4 linked regions of the Homo sapiens genome follow. The protein of the gene in region 3 interacts with the protein of the main gene of each other region in a pairwise test. Each region holds a gene or a part of one and is shown on either strand. Other genes may lie near its edges.

What was found. Proteins that work in one complex are often made in the same cells at the same time.
Region 1: the proteins of SSX2IP (region 3) and PRPF3 interact in binary tests that used the Homo sapiens proteins (3 or more experiments, as listed by UniProt).
Region 2: the proteins of SSX2IP (region 3) and ZRSR2 interact in binary tests that used the Homo sapiens proteins (3 or more experiments, as listed by UniProt).
Region 4: the proteins of SSX2IP (region 3) and ZNF438 interact in binary tests that used the Homo sapiens proteins (3 or more experiments, as listed by UniProt).

The regions. Positions count from the first base shown.
Region 1 is NC_000001.11:150,326,867-150,332,321, forward strand, and holds part of PRPF3 (U4/U6 small nuclear ribonucleoprotein Prp3), read left to right. Parts: intron 1-690; exon of another isoform or gene 691-786; intron 787-1,453; coding exon 1,454-1,600; intron 1,601-3,585; exon of another isoform or gene 3,586-3,632; intron 3,633-5,455. UniProt on the Homo sapiens protein: Plays a role in pre-mRNA splicing as component of the U4/U6-U5 tri-snRNP complex that is involved in spliceosome assembly, and as component of the precatalytic spliceosome (spliceosome B complex).
Region 2 is NC_000023.11:15,792,318-15,797,772, reverse strand, and holds part of ZRSR2 (U2 small nuclear ribonucleoprotein auxiliary factor 35 kDa subunit-related protein 2), read right to left. Parts: exon of another isoform or gene 1,724-5,455; coding exon of another isoform or gene 1,523-1,723; intron 1-1,522. UniProt on the Homo sapiens protein: Pre-mRNA-binding protein required for splicing of both U2- and U12-type introns. Selectively interacts with the 3'-splice site of U2- and U12-type pre-mRNAs and promotes different steps in U2 and U12 intron splicing.
Region 3 is NC_000001.11:84,651,564-84,657,018, forward strand, and holds part of SSX2IP (afadin- and alpha-actinin-binding protein), read right to left. Parts: intron 4,922-5,455; coding exon 4,785-4,921; intron 4,443-4,784; coding exon 4,269-4,442; intron 4,026-4,268; coding exon of another isoform or gene 3,902-4,025; intron 435-3,901; coding exon 320-434; intron 1-319. UniProt on the Homo sapiens protein: Belongs to an adhesion system, which plays a role in the organization of homotypic, interneuronal and heterotypic cell-cell adherens junctions (AJs).
Region 4 is NC_000010.11:30,874,077-30,879,531, reverse strand, and holds part of ZNF438 (zinc finger protein 438), read left to right. Parts: intron 1-2,466; coding exon of another isoform or gene 2,467-2,497; coding exon 2,498-2,534; intron 2,535-4,022; exon of another isoform or gene 4,023-4,201; intron 4,202-5,455. UniProt on the Homo sapiens protein: Isoform 1 acts as a transcriptional repressor.

The DNA.
Region 1 (5,455 bases), about 66 Mb from region 3:
TAGAAGAGGCAGGGGTATCACAAAATATATATTCACGTATTATAAAATCTAAGTAGCAGTTTCATGTAAATTTTAGGGTTGGTTATAGAATTTCAGACCTATGTTGAATTTTGTTATATTTAAGGTGGAATGATTGATCCACAGTATACACAGATCTGTACAGTGAAGATTATGTCACGATAGGGCATACTTCTTTTTTTTTTTCCTTTTTTTTTTTCTAAGGGTGAGTCTCACTCTGTCGCCCAGGCTGGAGTACAGTAGCGCAATCTTGACTCACTGCAACTTCCACCTCCCAGGTTCAAGTGATTCTCCTGCCTCAGCCTCCTGAGTAGCTGGGATTACAGGCACATGCCACCATGCCTGGCTAATTTTTGTATTTTTAGTAGAGACGGGGTTTCATCATGTTGATCAGGTTGGTCTCGAACTCCTGACCTCAAGATCTGCTCGCCTCGGCCTCCCAAAGTGCTGGAATTACAGGCATGAGCCACTGCGCCTGGCCAGTAGGGCATACTTCTGTATGAGTGCTGAGGGCATGCTGTGAATGAAGTGACTACATTGGGTGGGATTAATAAAAATGGCTTCTTGAAGGAGGTGTCTAGATAGCCTTGGGATACGGGTCCCATTTTTGGTCCATTCAGGTCCCCACCCCACACAATATATTATGGGAGAGTCCTTTTTCTTGAACTGTAGGAGTTCCAGGAAGCGCTCGCCCCTGGCCGAGGATATGTCCTTGCAAAACACGAGCCCTCCTAGTGAAGAGGGGATGTCACCCAAAGCCTACCACCGGTGTGTACATTTGCTTTTTCCCATTGTCCCTTCCAGTTGGCCACTCTCGGTCCTGTTAAATTCACCTTGCAAATTAGTCATCATATTTGAGTTTCCATTGTTTGATGAAAACAAAGTGTTAATGGGGATTACTGAAGAAGAAAGAGAAAGCCCCTGTCCTGGAAGAGCTTAGACTTAGTTGGGAAAACTATACTAACATTGAAATACTTAACACTTGGCAAACAGAATATCAACAATGTAATTTAACCTAATATGAACCAAGCTCTTACACGCTAAGAGAATGTGAAACAAAAGTTTAATCAGAGTGGGATAGGTTATAATGAGGAAAACTTCTTGGAGGAGGTGAGTTTTAGGCAGGATTTGGAACAGGGGTTGTGGAAAAGTTGAGAGAAATCATTATAAATGTGAGCAGTAGCATTTGCAAAGACCTTGAGATGGGAACATTTATAAGAACATGGGAATGAAATTTGTTTGACTGGATTAGGAGAATGTTGAAGTTGGGTGAGATGGAGAGTCTAGTAGACCCTGCTTCTGGCAGGTGGCTATTTGCAAGGTTGTGTCATATTCCCCTGGGAATAGCCAGAAAATGCTGGTAGGGGCTAGGATAATTCTTCCCTTCTCCCCACGGGGAGGGATACAGCTTTTCTTTCATCTTGGGTTCCCTTAGGAGGTGTTTGGTGATGACTCTGAGATCTCTAAAGAATCATCAGGAGTAAAGAAGCGACGAATACCCCGTTTTGAGGAGGTGGAAGAAGAGCCAGAGGTGATCCCTGGGCCTCCATCAGAGAGCCCTGGCATGCTGACTAAGCTCCAGGTTAGTGATTAGGGACTGGAAGCAAAGTGGTTTTGTGAGTTGAAGAAGCAAAAGGTGCATGGGTCTGTATTTATTGTGGAATTTTTTTTTTTTTTTTTTTTTTGAGGTGGAGTTTTGCTCTTGTCACCCAGGCTGGAATACAGTGGCGCGATCTCAGCTCACTGCAACCTCCGCCTCCCGGGTTCAAGCAAATCTCCTGTCTCAGCCTACTGAGTAGCTGGGATTAGAGGCACCCACCACCAAGCCTGGCTAATTTTTGTATTTTTAGTAGAGATGGGGTTTCACCATGTTGGCCAGGCTGGTCTTGAACTCCTGATGTCAGGTGATGCACTCACCTTGGCCTCTCAGAGTGCTAGAATTACAGGAGCGAGCCACTGCGCCCGGCTAATTTTTTGTATTTCTTTTAGTAGAGACAGGGTTTCACCATGTTGGGCAGGCTGGTCTTCAACTTCTGACCTCAGGTCATCTGCCCACCTTCGCCTCCCAGAGTGCTGGGATTATAGGCGTGAGCCAGCGTGCCTCGCCTTATTGTGATCTTGATTTGAATTAGTGTTTAGCATTTGGGGTAAACTTTTTTTTTTGAGATAGAGTTTCACTCTGTTGCCCATGCTGGAGTGTAGTGGCGTGATCTCAGCTCACGGCAACCTCCACCTCCCAGGTTCAAGCGATTCTCCTGCCTAAGCCTCCGGAGTAGCTGGGACTACATGCGAACACCACTACGCCTGGCTAATTTTTGTATTTTTAGTACAGATGGTATTTTGTCATGTTGGCCAGGCTGCTCTGGAACTCCTGGCCTCAAGTGATCTGCCACCTCAGCCGCCCAAATGGCTGGGATTACAGGTGTGAGCCACCATGCCAGGCCAGCATTTGGGAAAATTTTATTTCCTGCTTTATGTTTTAGCGTTCTTTGATTTGACCAGGAGTATTCTAGGTAAGGGTATTGAAATTGCCATTTACTGTGGCAAGCAAAGTGTGTTATGTACATTATTTGCCTAATTACCTATGTCGTTGAGTCATTGAGAAAATTAAATGAAATGATCAGAACTCATCTTAATGACAGAGGAGACTCTCCAAACATAATGCAAAGAAGATATAATCCACTGATAAATAATTTTAAGTTGACTTTATTTTTTTTTAACAGGAAGTATTTGTGTTTTTTCAATTGGCATTGTTAAATAATACCACATAAGTGTTTCTTTTACCATTTAATATTTGAGGGGGGTAATAGAACATATACAGAAATATGGGTGGGTGGATTTGCATATATGTGATATTTACAGAAGGAAAGAAATGGATTTTTTTTGTGTGTGTGTGTGAGATGTTCTCTCTGTCACTCAGGCTGGAGCGCAGTGGTGCGATCTCGGTTCACTGCAGCCTCTGCCTCCCAGGTTCAAGTGATTCTCCTGCCTCAGCCTCCTAAGTAGCTGGGATTATAGGCATGTGCCACCACGCACGGCTAATTTTTGTATTTTTAGTAGAGACAGGGTTTCACCATGTTGACCAGGCTGGTCTGGAACTCCTGACCTCAAGTGATCTGCCTACCTTGGCCTCCCAAATTGCTGGGATTATAGGCGTGAGCCACCGTACCTAGCCTGTTTTTGTTTTTCAGGCAAGGTCTCACTTTTTTGTCCAGGCTGGAGTTCAGTGGCGAGATCTTGGCTTACTGCAACCTCTGCCTCCCGGGCTTGAGTGATCCTCCCACCTTGGCTTCCCAAGTAGCTGGGACTACAGGTCACCATGCCTGGCTGATTTTTGTATTTTTTTTAAAGATTGAGTTCCACCATGTTGCCCAGGCTGGTCTTGAACTCCTGGGCTGAAATGATCCTCCTGCCTCAGCCTCCCAAAGTGCTGGACTTACAGGCGTGAGCTACCACGCCCAGCCAATTATTTTCTTTTTTGGGGGGTGGGGGATGGAGTCTTGCTCTGTCACTTAGGCTGGAGTACGGTGGCGCGTTCTCGGCTCACTGCAACCTCTGCCTCCCGGGTTCACGCCATTCTCCTGCCTCAGCCTCCTGAGTAGCTGGGACTACAGGTATGTACCACCATGCCCGACTAATTTTTTGTATTTTTAGTAGAGATGGGGTTTCACCATGTTAGCCAGGATGGTCTTGATCTCCTGACCTCGTGATCCACCCGCCTCGGCCTCCCAAAGTGCTGGGATTACAGGCATGAGCCACCGTGCCAGGCCCAATGATGTTTTTTATGGAGAATGGGGATGGACGTATTCACAACATATCCTTTTGTTATGTTTCTTTCTTTTTTTTTTTTGAGACGGAGTCTCACTCTGTCGCCCAGAGTGGAGTGTAATGGCGCTATCTCGGCTCACTGCAACCTCCGCCTCCCGGGTTCAAGCTATTCTTCTGCCTCAGTCCCTTGAGTAGCTGGGATTACAGGCACGCGCCACCACGCCTAGCTAATTTTTTTGTATGTTTAGTAGAGACGGGGTTTCACCATGTTGGTCAGGCTGGTCTCGAACTCCTGACCTCGTGATCCGCCCGGCTCGGCCTCCCAAAGTGCTGGGATTACAGACGTGAGCTGCCAGGCCCAGCCTGTAATTTTTCATTTTATTTTATTTTATTTTTTGAGACGGAGTCTCGCTCTTGCACTGTTGCCTAGGCTGGAGTGCAATGCCGTGATCTCAGCTCACTGCAACGTCCGCCTCCTGGGTTCCAGCAGTTCTCCTGCCTCAGCCTCCTGAGTAGCTGAGATTACAGAACGTGCATCACCATGTCCAGCTAATTTTTGTATTTTTAGTAGAGATGGGGTTTCACCCTGTTAGCCAGGATGGTCTCGATCTCCTGACCTCGTGATCCACCTGCCTCAGCCTCCCAAAGTATTGGGATTACAGGCGTGAGCCACCACGCCCAGCCCTGTAATTTTTAATTTTTTTATTTTCTTTCTTTCTTTACTTATTTAGAGATGGAGTCTCCCCCTGTTGTCCAGGCTGGAGTGCAGTGGCATGATCTTGGCTCACTGTAACCTCCACCTTCTGGATTCAAGCGCTTCTCCTGCCTCAGCCTCCTGAGTAGCTGGCATTACAGGCGCCCACCACCACACCCGGCTAATTTTTGTATTTTTACTAGAGACGGTGTTTCACCATGTTAGCCAGGCTGGTCTTCAGCTCCTGACCTCAAGTGATTCGCCCACCTCAGCCTCTCAAAGTGCTGGGATTACAGGCGTGAGCCACCATGCCTGACCCTTCCGTAATTTTTGAATTTTGAATATATCACCTATTCAAGAAAAAATGTTAAAGACAAATGTTTAAAAATATCTTGAAGCAGTTTAAGAACAGGTCTGTTTTGCAAAATGTAAGAGGAGTTGTTTGGCCATACCCTCAAAGCTTATCATTCTGAACTTCTTTAGGACAGAAGGGGTTTATAGAGACTAGGGAGCAGGTCTTTGCACCATCGTCTCTTGTTTCCCAAACTAGTAGTTCAAGTACTAATATCATGATTTTTTAAAAAAAATTAAGTATAGGCTGGGTGCGGTGGCTCACACCTGTAATCCCAGCACTTTGAGAGGCCGAGGTGGGCGGATCACGAGGTCAGGAGATCGAGACCATCCTGGCTAACAGGGTGAAACCCCATCTCTACTAAAAATACAAAAAATTAGCCGGGCGTGGTGGTGGGCGCCTATAGTCCCAGCTACTCGGGATGCTGAGGCAGGAGAATGGCATGAACCCGGGAGGCAGAGCTTGCAGTGAGCCAAGATCGCACCACTGCACTCCAGCCTGAGTGACAGAGCGAGACTCCATCTCAAAAAAAAAAAAGAAAATTAAGTATAATATTTTGTGTAGGTTCTGTTAGGTTTGCATGCATTATTTAAGTGGTTAACACTAGACCTGTAAGGTAGGTA
Region 2 (5,455 bases), on a different chromosome or scaffold from region 3:
TACAATACAGCTGACCCTTGAACAACACAGGTTTGAACCACCTTGGTCTATTTAAATACAGATTTTTTTTCAGTAAACACACTGGAACATTTAGGGGATATTTGCAACAATTTGAAAAAAAAAATAGGTAAGTGGCATGGCCTAGAAACACTGAAAAAAATTAAGAAAAAGGTATGTCATGAATGCATAAAATATATGTACATACTAGTCTATTTTATCATTTGCTACCATAAATATAAATCTATTATAAAACGTTAATGCAGAGCTGGGCGTGGTGGCTCATGCCTGGAATCCCAGCACTTTGGGAGGCCAAGGCGGGCGGATCACCTGAGGTCAGGAGTTCGAGACCAGCCTGGCCAACATGGTGAACCCCATCTCTACTAAAAATACAAAAATTAGCCGGGCGTGGTGGCAGCCCCCCGTAATCCCAGCTACTCGGGAGGCTGAGGGAGGAGAATTGCTTGAACCCGGGAGGTGGAGGTTGCAGTGAGTCAAGATCGCGCCACTGCACTCCAGCCTGGGAAACAAGAGCAAAACACCGTCTCAAAAAAAAAAAAAAAAAAAGTTAATGCAGATACTGTTAAGCAATATTGTGCTGGCTTGAGCAGCACATATACAGATACTGTTACAATATAAGTTAAGTGTTTTATTGTTTCCTTGCTTAAAGCATTTGAAACAGGCCAGGGAGCGGTGGCTCATGCCTGTAATCCTAGCACTTTCGGAGGCCGAGGTGGACGGATTACTTGAGGTCAGGAGATCGAGACCAGCCTGGCCAACATGGCGAAACCCCATCTCTACTAAAAATAAAAAAATTAGCCAGGTGTGGTGGTGCACGCCTGTAATCCCAGCTACTCAGGAAGCTGAGGCAGGAGAATTGCTTGAAACTGGGAAGCAGAGGTTGCAGTGAGCCGAAATTGCACCACTGCACCCTAGCCTGGGCGACAGAGCGAGACTCTGTCTCAAAAAAAAAAAAAAAAAAAAAAAAAAACGATTTGAAACAAAATGATCTCTGACTTCATTCCATTCTAAGACAGAGAAGTTCGGTCTCAAACATTTTTCCTTGAATATTACTATAAAAGTTGTGCTACAACATAATCATTGACAACTTTTTTTAAAGTTAAAATTTATCAAAACTTATATTTATAGACCATATATGGCACATTCACAGTTGAGAAAAATGTAAACAAACATAAATATGCAGTATTAAATCATAACTGCATGAAATTAACTGTAGTACAAAACAAGGAAAAAAACGCATCCAATGAGGTACAGAAGGAAGAAAAAAATTAACTGTAGTACACACTGCACTACTGCAATAATTTCATAGCCACCTCCTGCTGCTATTGCAGTGAGCTCAAATACTATGAGTATTCACTTAAAACACCTTGTGACACTACTCATCTCTGCATGAGCAGTTCATCTCTTCAGTAAATTGTGTATGGCAGTAAGAAGTGATCTCTGGCGTATTTTTCACTGTGTTTACTACAAAATGGTAAACCTTGAATAACATCATGAGACTCACACAAAGTGCGACTAGCGATGCTGGAAGTGCTCTCAAGAAGCAGAGAAAAGTCATGATGGCCGGGCGCGGTGGTGCGTGTCTGTAATCCCAACTACTCTGGAGGCTGAGGCAGGAGAATTGCTTCAACCCGGGAGGCGGAGGTTGCAGTGAGCCGAGTTCATGCCACTGCACTCCAGCCTGGGCGACAGAGCAAGACTCCATCTCAAAAAAAAAAACAAAAAACAAAAAAGAAAATCACTGAGGAGAAAGGATATCTGCGTGAATAGGACGCCCAGCTACTTTTTGTATTTTTAGCAGAGACAGGGTTTCACCATGTTGGCCAGGCTGCCCTCGAAGTCCCGACCTCGTGATCCACCCGCCTTGGCCTCCCAAAGTGCTAGGACTCCAGGCGTGAGCCACTGCGCCTGGCCTGAACAGGTTTTTAATGCAGATGAAAGTATCCTATTCTAGAAAAACACCACAAAGGACATTTAGTAGGAAGAGAAGCAAGCAGCAGGATTGAAAACAAAAAGAGACAGGCTAACTCTACTGTTTCATGAAAACGTAGTGGGGTTTATGATCAGAACTGCCCTTATCTATAAAGCTGCTAACCCCCACCCCCAATCCTTGAAGGGAAAAGATCAGCACCAGCTGCCTGTCTTTTGGTTGTACAACTAGAAGGCCTGGACAATGGAAATCCTTTTTTCTGAATTGGTTCCACTGATGCTTTGTCCCTGAAGTCAGGAAGTACCTTGCCAATAAGGAACTGGATTTTAAAATTATTTTAATATTGGACAATGCCCCTGGCCACCCAGAACCCCATGAGTTCAACACTGAAGGTGTCAAAGTGGTCTACTTGCCCCCAAACACAATGTTTCTAATTCAGCCTCTAGACCAGGGGGTCGTAAGAACCTCTAAAGCTCATTACACGTGGTACTCTACGGAAAGGATTGTCAATGCTATGGGAGAGAACCCTAATACAGAGAGTATCAAGAAAGTGTGTAAAGATTATACCATTGAAGATGCTATTGTTGTTATAGAAAAAGCCATGAAAATCATCAAGCCCAAAACAAAGTCCTGCTGGAGAAAAAAATGTGTCCAGATATTGTGCATGGCATCATTGGACTTAAGACAGAGCCAATCAAGGAAATCGTGAAAGAGATTGTAAATATGGGGGGGGGGGAAAAGTGCAGGGGGGTCGGGGTGAAGGGTCTCAAGATATCTTGAAGAAATTCAAGAGCTAACAGACACACCAGAGTAGTTAACAAAAGCCAATTTGATGGGGATGAGTCCTTCCAAACCAGTGCAAGGTGATGAGGAAGAAAACTGAGGTGAAGCAGTGCCAGAAAACAAATTGACACTAGACAATCTGGCAGAAGGGCCAATTATTCAAGACTGCTTTTGACTTCTTTTATGGACCCTTCTATACTGAAAACTAATGCATTTAAACTAAAGCAAGTGGTGGAAGAATTGGTACTGTATAGAAACATTTTTAGAGAAATGAAAAAGCAAAAATGTCAGACAGAAATTATAATGTATTTCTGCAAAGTTACACCAAGTGCCGTCTACCCTCTTGCCTTCCCTTCTACCTCCTCCACCTCTTCCACCTCTGCCACCCAAGAGAGCAAGACCAAATCATCCTCTTCCTCCTCGGCCTACTCAACATTAAGACAAGGAGAATGAAGACCTTTATGATGAACCACTTCCATTTAATGAAGGGCAAATATATTTTCTCCTCCTCGGGATTTTCTTAGTAACATTCTTTTCTCTAGCTTACTTTATTATAAGAATATGGTATATAATACATATAACATACAAAGTATGTGTTAATCAACTGTTTATGTTATTGGTAAGGCTTAGAGTCAACAGCAGGCACTTAATAGTAAGTTTTGGGGGAGTGAAAAGTTATATGCAAATTTTCCACTGTGGGGAGGGGCGGGGGGCGGTCAGAGTCCCCTAACTCCCACATTGTTCAAGGATCAAATGTATATCCAATGGTATTATACAGGTTGAGCACCCCAAATCCAAAAATGAGAAATATTTTGAGTGACAACAATGCTCAAAGGAAATGCTCATTGGAGCATTTCGAATTTTGGATCTTTGGATTTGGGATGCTGAACTGGTAAATACAACGCAAGCATTTCAGATAAGGGATACTCAACCTGTACATGTAACTGTACACACAGAATCATGCTATAGTTTTGCAACTTGCTTTTAATATCTTAATTTCTGACGAGGTAGCTTGTTTCCAGTTATCTGAAGTAGAATGGATGCCAAAGAAGCTATCTGTAATTAAGAGCTCACTATTCCAGAAATCATTTGCCAAGGCACTCCAATCATTTGCCAAGGCACTCTCATAGTTACACTCAACATTCTAGCCTTCTGGGTAATGTTTACCCATCTAACGTGTGCTACAATAAACAGCAGTGTTCCTGGCCGGGCGCAGTGGCTCACGCCTGTAATCCCAGCACTTTGGGAGGCCAAGGTGGGCAGATCACCTGAGATCAGGAGTTTGAGACCAGCCTGGCCAACATGGTGAAACCCCATCTCTACAAAAGTACAAGAATTAGCCGGGCATGATAGTGGGTACCTGTAATCCCAGCTACTCAGGAGGCTGAGGCAGAAGAATCACTTGAACCTGGGAGGCAGAGGTTACAGTGAGCCTAGATCGTGCCATTGCACTCCAGCCTGGGCGAGAGAGTGAGACTCTGTCTCAAAAAAAAAAACCAGGAGTGTTCCATAGTCTACAGTATTCATGAAGTACCACTAGGCAAAGAATTGTGAGTTGGAGTGGGCAAAAGTAGGAGCAGAAGTGCAGAGACAGGTGCTTAGTCTTGGATATGCCATTAGTTACATAATCTTGACAGACCAGTGACCTGGATTTAGTCCATTAAAATGGGCTAAACTACCATGGGACATGACTCGCCTGACTCTCCACAGAGGCTCATTCTGAACACATTTTGCTAAGTAAAAAGGAAAAAAAAAATCAAAACAATACAAATACCAGCTGTTATAGGATTTAGTGCAGGAAAAGAAAAAGAGAAAGAAGTTAAAACAAATTTAGAATATATAATATTTAGAATAAAACAGATTAAATGAACAAAGTAAAGTAGCTGAAAATTTCAAGGGGGGAGAGACGAAGTACAATAAGGGCCTCAATAACTCCAACCTATTCTACTTTTCCTTTTATCCCTGATGCTTTGTTCTGCCTCTAGTGGATGAGTTTTCAACTAATAAGACAGAAATGCTAACACAGGTTGCAGTTAAACACACTGCTCCTTCCATTCTAAATATCCCAGTACTGACACTAAAATAATTACTCAGGAACACCAATGGTAAATAAAACCTCTATGGCTATGTTTCTCAAGGTCCAAGAATCCTAGTTACTTGAGGCCATGGTCTCTGGATTTTAAGAATTGTCTAGGATAATTTCATGAGCATATTCTGGATAATGCGGATGACAATCATTATAAGCCAGTACTACTGTGTGATTTCAGTGCTCCCATCTGGATTTATAACTACTACATAATTTTATAACTAAGTCCTAATTTTATTGCATTAAGCAGGTAGATTTAATACATAAATGTTAGGTTTTGCCATGTGAAGGTCAAATGACCATCTGTACAAATAAAGGTTCTACAGTAATTTCATAGAAAAAGTGGTAAATAACTATAAGGCAACATTAGTAGAGGCATTCCAAACTCCCATCAGTGCCATATACATATTGTGAGGAGCATTAGTTTCACATCATCCCTAGCATTACCTGATGTAGATTTAAATTTTACCGAATGTGTAATTTCATTTAGTTTTATAATTTATAAATGTATTTTTATTTGTTTGTTTGTTTTTTGAGACAGAATCTCACTCTGTTGCCCAAACTGAAGTGCAGTGGCAGGATCTCGGCTCACTGCAACCTCTGCCTCCCAGGTTCAACTGATCCTCTTGCCTCAGCCT
Region 3 (5,455 bases):
CTAAAAATACAAAAATTAGCCAGGCGTGGTGGCACATGCCTGTAATCCCAGCTACTCAGGAGGCTGAGACAAGATAATCGCGTGAAGCTGGGAGGCAGAGGTTGCAGTCAGCCAAGGTCACGTCACTGCACTCCAACCTGGGCGACAGAGCAAGACTCCGTCTCAAAAACAAACAAAAAAAAGTTGACTTTTAGTTATAATTAGAGAGCTCTAATTGGTGATTTCCAAAGTTTTGTATTAATAATATGTAGTATTTTGTAATATGTAAATAATTTTATTTATATGCATGTTCAAATTAAAGAGTTTATAAAGTACTCACTTCCTGAGAAGGCACTGAAAAGTTTCACATTTTCTGAGTTCTGGTGGTCAAAGGTAGTCATATTTAGAAACTGCTGCTTTAACCAACTGGCTCTTTCTTCTTCAAATGCCTTTCTCTACCATAAACAGCCAAAGAAATAATGATCAATATTTCAACATCCACACAGTTGCCATTTCACATGATTGCTCTAGCTATCTTTGTTTGCTCTCTGGCTATCTATTCGTACTTCTTATGTCAAATGAGTTAACCTAAAAAACTAAAAATAATTTCAGCACTCGTCTGTAATCCCAGTATTTTGGGAGGCTGAGGGTTGGTGGAGCACTTGAACTGAGGAGTTCCAAACCAGCCTAGGCAACACGGCAAAACCCTGTCTCTACACGAAATACAAACATCAGCTGGGCATGGTGGCACAGGACTACAGTCTCAGCTACTTTGGAGGCTGAGGAGGGAGGATGGCTAGAGGCTGGGAAGTTGACGCTGAAGTGAGCCGAGATAGCACCACTGCACTCTAGCCTAGGTGACACGGCAAGACCGTATCTCCAAAAAAAAAAAAAAAAAAAAAAAAAAAGCCGGGCGCAGTGGCTCATGCCTGTAATCCCAGCACTTTGGGAGGACAAGGTGGGCGGATCACAAGGTCAGGAGTTTGAGACCAGTCTGGCCAACATGGTGAAACCCCATCTCTACTAAAAATACAAAATTTAGCCGGGCATGGTGGCGTGCGCCTGTAGTCCCAGCTACTCAGGAGGCTGAGGCAGGAGAATCACATGAACCCAGGAGGCAGGGGTTGCAGTGAGCTGAGATCGCACCCCTGCACTCCTGCCTGGGCAACAAAGCAAGGCTCCATCTCAAAAAGCAAAACACGGCCGGGCACGGTGGCTCACGCCTGTAATCCCAGCACTTCGGGAGGCCAAGGCGGGTGGATCACGAGGTCAGGAGATCGAGACCATCCTGGCTAACATGGTGAAACCCCGTCTCTACTAAAAATACAAAACAAAAAAAATTAGCCGGGTGTGGTGGCGGGTGCCTGTAGTCCCAGCTACTCAGGAGGCTGAGGCAGGAGAATGGCATGAACCCAGGAGGCAGAGCCTGCAGTGAGCCAAGATCACGCCACTGCACTCTAGCCTGGGCAACAGAGTGAGACTCCATCTCAAAAAAAAACAAAAACAAAAAAACTAAGAAAAATTTCACTTACGAAAAAATTATGTTTAAAAAATAGAAATTCATCTGTTTCACCTAATAAACCAACCATCACTGTCTTCATATCAATTTTAAGTTCAAATAAACAATGCAAAAAATGGAACAGAATATTAGCATAACTTTTGAACATACAAAACATTATAAAGTTACAAACAAAAGAAAAATAATCTATATTGTAAATTAGTCACTTGAAAAACAGGACCTATGACTTCATCAAGCATTTCTCTCATCCTCTAGCCATCTACCAGTACTGGTAGCCACCACCACTAAACCACAAGAGGGCATAGGCAAATTATGTCAAACCTCCCCCTTCTGAATAGCTGATGAATCCTAAACTAAATTCTCCATCAGCCCTCAGGTCTTGCATGCCTCCCTCCCATCCCTCACTATGCCCACTGTCCCAGTGACCAGACGGAGAAAAATTCTCTTGCAGGGAAAGGCACCTGGCAACTGGGAGCAATATGCAAAGTAGCAAGAGTAATTACTCTCTTGGAGTAATGTGGGGAATAAGGGCTTGGAAACAGGTAGGAGACAATGCTGGTCAAGTGTTGTTCCCTGAAGATAGCTACTGATGAAACAGACGTTCACACTGTGAACTGAGGAAATCCACGTCAGCTACTGAAAACAAGCAACACACAGTCTTTCATTCATAAATATTGATACAGAATCACGCATCACCAAACATTGAGAAAACTAATATAGAAAAAAGGTCAAGATAAATAGAAAACTGACCATGGATAAGAGATAATTCAACAGATGAAAGAAATCTTTTTTAAAAATGTAACAAATATTATCAGATTAATAAACATCTGTAAAATACCATCATGCTATATAAAGAAAAGCAAAAATTAAGGACATTAGAAAAATTTAAAGATAAATTCTGAAGCAAAGACTCAGTGGCTAAAGCAAATAATAAAACTGACCCTGAAAGGCCAGTTTCGTGATCTCTAAGATAAAGGTAAGAGAATATCCCAGAATTGAGAACAAAAGTCAACCTGTAGATATATATTCAGAAGGCCAAATGTGTGTCTAACAAAAGTTCCAGAACACAGAGAAGTCAAAGAAGGAAAAAATAAAGAAGAAAATTTCCCTAAATTAAAGAAATACAGAATCTTTAGGATGAAAGGAACTCTCTAGAAGTATCCTGGTAAAATTTCCAAACTTTAAGAAAATACCAAAGCTTCCACAGAGGGAGATAGAAAACAAAACACAGTTATCTACAAAGTAACACAGGTATATTACAATCAGGCTTCTCATCAGTAAAACTAAACACTAGGAGAAATGGAATAATTCAAAGTTTTGAAGGAAAAAAAACTGGAATCTAAATTCTATACACAGCCAAACCAATCAAGTATGAATATATTTTTGACTATTCCAGAATTCAGAATGTTTACAGCTCATGCACTATTTATAAAAAAAAAATTACTCAAGAATTAGTAATTACTCAATTACTAATATAGCGAATTGAACAGAAACCCAAGAAAGACAGTAACATGAGATATGAGCAACATGGCAGCTGAAATCTGATTCAGGAAATCACAAAGGAAGCTACAGAGAAAAAGAATTCACTAGATAGTGATATATCTCTCTGGGTGGCAAAGTCTTAATAATACAGAATATTTTCTGTGTCCAAACATATTTGGTTATAGAATAACATTTACATAATTGTAGTATTATCAATTTTCTTTCCTGGTTTTCCAACTTTTAAGTCTCAAGTTTAGACAAAGTACTTATACCTGGATTGTATTAGAGGACAAACTATGAATGTGATAACAATGAAAAATAATATCACAAAAATTGCAAAGTAGTACAGCAAGAGAGGTAGAACAAGAGTAACAACAAGAAAGTCCTCAGCTTTCACTGCAGGGATGAACTGATACTGACTGAAGTTGAACAAACATGAAATGGAAGCTTTTTATTATTTCCTTAAAGCAAAAAAAAGGCAAGCAGACGAACAAGAGGAACAATATTATGAAGACATGAGATGTGAATGAGGAAGGGTGTAGGTAGGAGGTACAATAAGGACACAGAATTCCTTATCTTTCATAGCAGGGAATCAATGAACTGATAAACAAGAAAACTTGAAATACATTAAAAGTTAAAATAGTACTTCCTAGAAGAATTTCCAACAGATACTTTTTAACAGCAGTTACCTCTAAGGAATGAAACTGAGGATGAGAAAGGAGGATACTTTCTTACTTTGTAGCTTTTTTTAATGAGTTTTGTTGATTTTTTTTTTTTAACCTTATTCAGACATTACTGCTACAATTTTTGAAGGGGGAATATGTAGATGACACATTGCTAAGTAAAAAAAGCAAGCTGTAGAGCGTATATATAACAATGATGGACTGGGGAGAAGAGAACTTAATTTTTTATTATACTTCCTTTTTAAACAGCAAATATAGTCTTGGTTGCACTGTCTTCTGACACCACACCTACTGACCGTGGATGAATGATGGATACCCAAAAGAGATTTCTTGTGTAAAACACTTAGCAGGAGAAAGCCAATCTGAAAGCAGTAATAAATGCTTATAGCGTTTTTTTTTCTTAAGTTCAATTCTCAAATCTGGTAAGGGGAAATGATCCCATTCTATATGCTCAGCCTCCCTCTCATTTCAAATTATTTGTGAGATCACCAGTAAATATTTTAGAAAATAAGTAAATAGCAAGAAAAAAAGGAGACCTTAGAAGCATTCTACTGAGGCCCACCCACCCCCAGTATTTTCAAAAGCACTACAATTGTTTAAAATACCTCCAATCCCAGGCGAATAGCGGCTTCTGTAAAGCTTCGTCTCTCCCTCTCAAAATTCTTTTTCTGCTCTTTAAAAAGGGACCATTCTTCTTTGAGACGTTCCTTTTCTTCCAACAAATAACAGTCTCGTAATAGTGAAGTGGTATCATCATCATATGCAGTAGCGAGCTGCTGCTATTAAAATTTAAAACATAGTAAGTTCCTGAGGGACCTTGCGACACTCCAACGAGTTGAAATGAAAGCAAGGGAAGGCCAGTCAAACTTCAGGGCAGGAATAGAAATTATTAAGAATCAAAAAGTCAAATGAGAATTCTCATTTCCCGAAACCTACTACCCCAACTAGCAAAGTATGGACTATTTAAGGAGTGGTACACAATGTATCTGTTAGCAGGGAACACAGACTAGAAATCTGTCAAATACCAGGGCCTTATGAAATAAAGGAATACAAATCTGGTAAGGTTCAGCACAATTCTGGCTTTTCATGGAGAACAGCTTTAAAAGGTAATTCATATTCACCTGTAAAAGCTGTTGCTGAGTTTTAATCATTTCTTTACACTGCTGAATTTCTAACTCGAGTTTTTCAGTTTCTTGTTCATGGTCTTGTCGTGAGATTACATCTTCATCATTAAAACCTTCCAGGTGTACCTTTGAAACTAAGACAAAATCAGTAAGTTGACATAGGTCTTATAGCCACCACTTAGTTTACAGTGTTTTGCACATATCTTTAAAACAAGGGCTCTCAGAACTTTTATCTTTCTAGAATTTTATAGGTTTTCTAAAAAGTAGTTACGTCCTTTGACTTTTTAAAATTTCATAAGCTATAACAAAATTAAATTTATATTATTTTAACATTATAAAAAATGTTTAAGCAAAGCAACTACAGGAGTTCATGACGACAATTACACATTTGTGCAATTTTAAGACTAAATGATATGCTTACAAACAGAGCTCTATTGCCAACAATTTGTAATCCATATTTATTCATGATTATGTCCTAATTAAAAACAGACAAAATGGCCATATTCAGAGAAGAGAAAAATAAAATCATGTTTTTGTTGACACTGCTTCAAAGATCAATGAAGTGTCACAAATCTTGCTCTCAAATATTAAATTCAACAAATACGAAGTCCAAACATACTTGCTATTTGATAATAAACAGCATTGACTCAAATGAACAAAATCTCATG
Region 4 (5,455 bases), on a different chromosome or scaffold from region 3:
TGCTCAGTTTTGATTGTTTTCTAAATTATGGATCATATTTTTCTGCGTTTCTGCATGCTTGATAATTTTTATTAGATGTCAGTCATTATGAATTTTACTTTATTGGGTGGTAGATATTTTTGTATTTCTATAAATATTTTGTGATTTTTTCTGGTACATAGTTAAAATAGTTTGAAACAGTTTGATTCTTTCATGTCTTGCTTTAAGATTTACGTGAAACCAGAGAAATGCACAGTTTAGAATTAAGTATTCCCCCCTACTAAGGCAAGACCCTTCTGTGTACTCTACCCATTCCTTTGTGGATTATGAGTTTTTTTACCCTAGCTAATGGGAACAGGCAATATTCCCGTTCTTCTGTGACTGTAGTGTACCTTGGACCTTTCCCTGGTCTTGGGGTGTTTCCTCACTTGCCTGTGCTGATCATTACAAAGGTAAATAACCCAGCGAGGACCCTCTCTGTTGTGCTGTGTCTGTGTGTAGCTCTCTTTTCCAGTATTCTGGAAATCTCTGCAAGGATCTGTCCTCACATAGAGCTCATCGCAGTTGTTTCAATAGGGCTCATTGCAATTGTTTCCTGGCTCTCGGGGATCAGTTTTTCTTGACCTGATGATGCAGGATTTTTCTCGACCCCTTTGTCAGATTTGCAATGGGGGTGCCCTGTTTACTCAGCCTGCCACACTCAACCCCTTGCAGGAGGGAGCACGTGAGCAAGCGAGTGGGTTCAGGCTGGCTGCTTTGGGTGCCGGCAGGAGCAAGCTCCATGCACACCCTGTGGCGGTGCCCAGGTGGGAGTGCCTGTGATCCCCAGAATCCCAGAGGGCATGCTACAATGCCCTCTTAGCTTAGCTTTACCGTTTATGGACAGCAGTGTTATCAGCTCAGTGGGCCCCTTGTCTTGTCATGTGGGGTGTCTACACTCCACCAGCAAGGGCAAAGGGCTAGTGTGACAGCCTTTTTTGGGTACCTGCATCCAGTGGGTCCCAAGCCCTTGTGTGGTGTCCAAGAAGAACGAGGTCATGCTGACACTTGAAGGATGGTGGAGGCAGATAATTTTATTTAGCGATGGATGTCTCTCAGTGGAGAGAGGAGCTGGAAAGGGGGATGGGATGGTCAGGTAATCTTCCCTGAAGTCAGAGCGTCCCTCTGAAGTTAAGCTATCTTTCCTCTGAAGTCCAGCTGTCCCTCTGAAGTCAAGTTGCTTCTCTCCAGTCAAGCTGCTTCTCTCCTCTACTGACTGAGTCCAGGGTCTTTAGAGGCACAGAATGGGGGTGCAGGGCAAGCCATGGGTAGTTTTGGAAAAGGCAACATTCGATTGGTAAAAAGACATTATTCAGAAAGAACCAATCAGGAGAGAACAGGCAAACAGGGATAGAAGTTCTCACCTTGGGCAGCAGGTTTCAGGCTACTTTGACTTGAAGGTGCTGTTTCACTGGGGACCCGCCCCTGTCTGCCTAGAATTTCTCTGCCTCCTGCTTCCATCGCTGATGTTCAGTGTTTTGAAGACATTGTTTCATATGTTCTGTCTGTGTTTTGGTTGTTTCAGGCAGAAGCATGAATCTGGTCTCTGTTACTCCATCTTGGCTAGAAGTAGGAATCATGCCTTTTAATTTTGTCCAATTTTCTTACTTTAAAAATATTTAAAATTTTAAATAGAAAAATTCATCAGTCTTTACCTTAATGGGCTCTGTACTTGGTGTCATGCTTAGGAACATTTTTTTGTTTAAGAACTTATAAAAAAATTTACTTCTATTTTTCAAATATTTGAATTGTCTTATTCAGATATTTTATTAATATGGAACACTACATTATACACAATTTGGAAAATAGCTAAAATATGGGGAATGGGGGAGAACACCTGTAATTCCATCACCAAACACACTGTAAATTTATATATTGACATATTTTCTTCCATGTGTTTTCCTGTGCCTTTATTTTTTGTGTATTTGTAATGCTGGTGTCCATCATTTAGCATGTTCATCCATGTTTATCCAGTGCATCGCATCATTAACATTTTTTATGTTGCTACATAATCTTCACAGTTGCATTTTAATGACTGAGTTATATTTCATCAAATGATTATATTACAATTATATTACCTTTATACTGTTAAGCATGTTAGCTATTTCTTCTTAAAGTATATGAAGCAATTATCAGAGAGTACATTTTCAGAGAATCCTAACTTTGCCTACTTACACATGACCCCATGAGAGCAGAAGTGTGACTAAGGCCCCTGATGTGTCATTGCATCTGTCTCTAAGCCCATTCTAGTACATTCAATAAAATCCTATTTGTAGAAAAATGAGAAGAAAATAAAAACATCAATTCTTAATAGCTCAATCCATTTCTTATTACTCATATAGTTATAAAACAAACTTTAAAAAACAGCTTAGAATTTCTATATTTAGTATGCATTAACATGCTCTCTCAATTACTTTCTAATACTTATTTGTGCTTGCTTATTTTTAGGAAAGATACTATTCAAGTCCAGTACATCATAATGCAGAATTCTGTATCAGTACCACCAAAAGATGAAGGTAAGTTAAACTGCTGAGGAAAATGGTGATGAGTCTGTTATAGTTTTAATTTGATACATTGAATGTCATTGACCTCTAATCATAAGGTAACTTATTTCCTAGAATTAAAAATAAAAATTATAATTATATATGAAAACTCATTTCTTTTGGTAAATAATTTGAGTGTATATGGATTCCTGAGTTTTAAGGACCTGTCTCCTTTATAGGCTATAGCGCCTTGAGAGCCCAGCCATCTCATTCCACCCAAAACTCACAGAGCCCTGCTTATTCACTGGCAGTTAACTGGCACTAACAGATATCAGTAAAATTAAAAAGTGTTGGCTTTATTGAAGCAAAATAACACAAGTATTTTAGTGAGTAGAAGAATATATGCATATATATTCACACACACATCTGTAGACATACACTTAGAGGATATAGAATTTGTGTATACATTTCTTTGCCTGTTTCCCCTGATATCCATTTAAAAAGAAATAGAAAAACTATTTTACTTTTTGCAATGTATAAAAAATAAAATAATGATTTTTTAACAGGCACTTCTGGACCTTCCAGAAGAACCTGTACCTCCAGATGGAGGTAGAGTCCTTTCTTCATCAAGAGTAATTAAATTACCCTCACCATAAAGGGTACACTCTAACCCCGGGGAGAAATACCAGTCTTTCCCTGCCCCATCTAGTCTCTTCCACACAGAAGAGAAGTTCTGACATGTATGAGAAAAAAGACATATCTTTAATGAGGCAAAATTAGGTTGCCTTAGTGGAACATGTAGCTTTTAGTGAAAGGAGGGAATTTGTTATGAAGGACCCTTAAATAGAGCAAACACCCTTTGATCTCTCTACCAGTGAGAAAGGTAGTATCATAACTCTTGAGCACATGGAATCTGGATTTGAAACTCAGTCCTACCACTTAACTGTAAAACTTTAGGTGTATCACTTGACCTCAGCTTCCACATCTGTAAATCTATAAAATGAAGATAATAAGTTCCACTCTATAGGATATGTGGAGACTAAAGGAAATAGCATATGTAAATCACCTAGCATATTGTTGTTTGCATAGTAGGCACTTATATGATGATAAAACTACCATTCTCAATGGCTATTATTAATATCTGGGACATCCTCATCTTTGAGACTGGTCAGTGAGATGGCCATGAGGCCGCCTCTTGCCTGGGATGCCTAATGGCCTTGGAAGGCCAAACATGCTCCAAGGGGACCCATGGGGAGTAAGCAGGAATTAGACCGCTTGGTTTGATTCTTACCCAGGAGTTGATCCGAAGAGAGAGTGAGAGTCCTTGAGACTCACACAAAATCCAGCCGGGAACACTAGGGCAAGAAAGGAGATGGGCAAACCCCAACTAGAAATAAAGAGCATGTGTTTTTCTTGAGTGTTCTCTGGTATATATCCTCTGGAAGATTTGTGCAGCACTTGGTAGCTGATGAAGGGTTTGAAATTCAGTGTCCTAGCTGGTATTACCTTTTTTTATCCAAGCAAGCAAGGAGAAGCTTAGGAGAAAAAATAATGGAACAAGTATCAGGAAAGCTGGACTCCATTCCATACCTGCCTCCAACCAGCTGTGGAACCCCAGGCAAAGTTATTTTGCCCCTGAGCCTCAGTTTTCTCATTGAAAAATCGAGAATGACTAGGTGTTCCTTTCAGGCTCTAAAAAGGTGAGTCTATGTGAGTAACTAAGCAACAAGCTGCTTGGCTCTGGCTGATACAGAGGGAGAAAGCACTCACACCTCTTGGCTGCTTTGCTTCTCATCACAGTTTGTTTTGTTCTGATGCCTACCTCTCTGGGCTATCACATAAGCTTGGATACTTCCATTGACCGGAAAGTAAGACCCCTTGGCCCTACCCAGAGCTCAAGTAAACCTCCTTACCCAGTCTTTTCTGGGACTAAAGATGCTTAAGCCCAATCCTGGAATTTGACAGAGGATATATAATAGCTTAAAAAAACCTCAATCATGTGCCTCCATTGTGATAATCATTCTACCTACAACTTTACATCCTTTATTTAATCTTCACAATAAGTTAGACGTAAACCTTATTTTACAACTTCAAGATTAGGTACTTTTTGCCAAGACCACCAACCAGTAAGTGACTGATCCAAGATTTGAACTCAGATCTATCATAAAATTTATAAAGAATATTTATATAAATTATAGAGAATATATATTTATAAAGAATATTTAATTTATAAAGATATTTCTATAAGAATTTACAATTTATAAAGAATATTTCTAATAATTTTTGATCATCTCCTTTTTCTCTCATCAAACATACTATGCTTAATTACACATATGAATGCTTAAAGCCATTTTAAACCAAAGTGAGCAGAAATTATAACTTAAATTATGGAAAATTACATCAATAAGGAAAAATAATATATGTGAATACATGTAAGTCCTATGAATTGCCCAGTTATTCATTAATTTACTCATTCATTCATTCAAATGCTTTCTGTATGTCTTAGATTAATATTAATATTTTTTAACAAAAGCATCAGATGTATTAATTATGATTCTGTTTATGATCAAATATAATTTATGGCTAGGTACAGCAGCTCCCACCTGTAATCCCAGCACTTTGGGAGGCTGAGGTGGGAGGATAACTTGAGGCCAGGAGTTAGAGACCAGCCTGGGCAACATAGCAAGACTCCATCTCTACAAAAAAATTTCAAAATTAGCTAGGCGTGATGGCTCATGCCTATAGTCCCAGCTACTTGGAAGGCTGAGCTAGGAGGATTGCTTGAGCATAGGAGTTTGAGGCTGCAGTGAGCTATGATCATGCCATGGCATTCCAGCCTGGACAACAGAACAAGACCTTGTCTCTAAATATATATATATATATATATATATATATATATATATATATATATATATACACACACACACCCCCACACACCCACACGTAATATATTA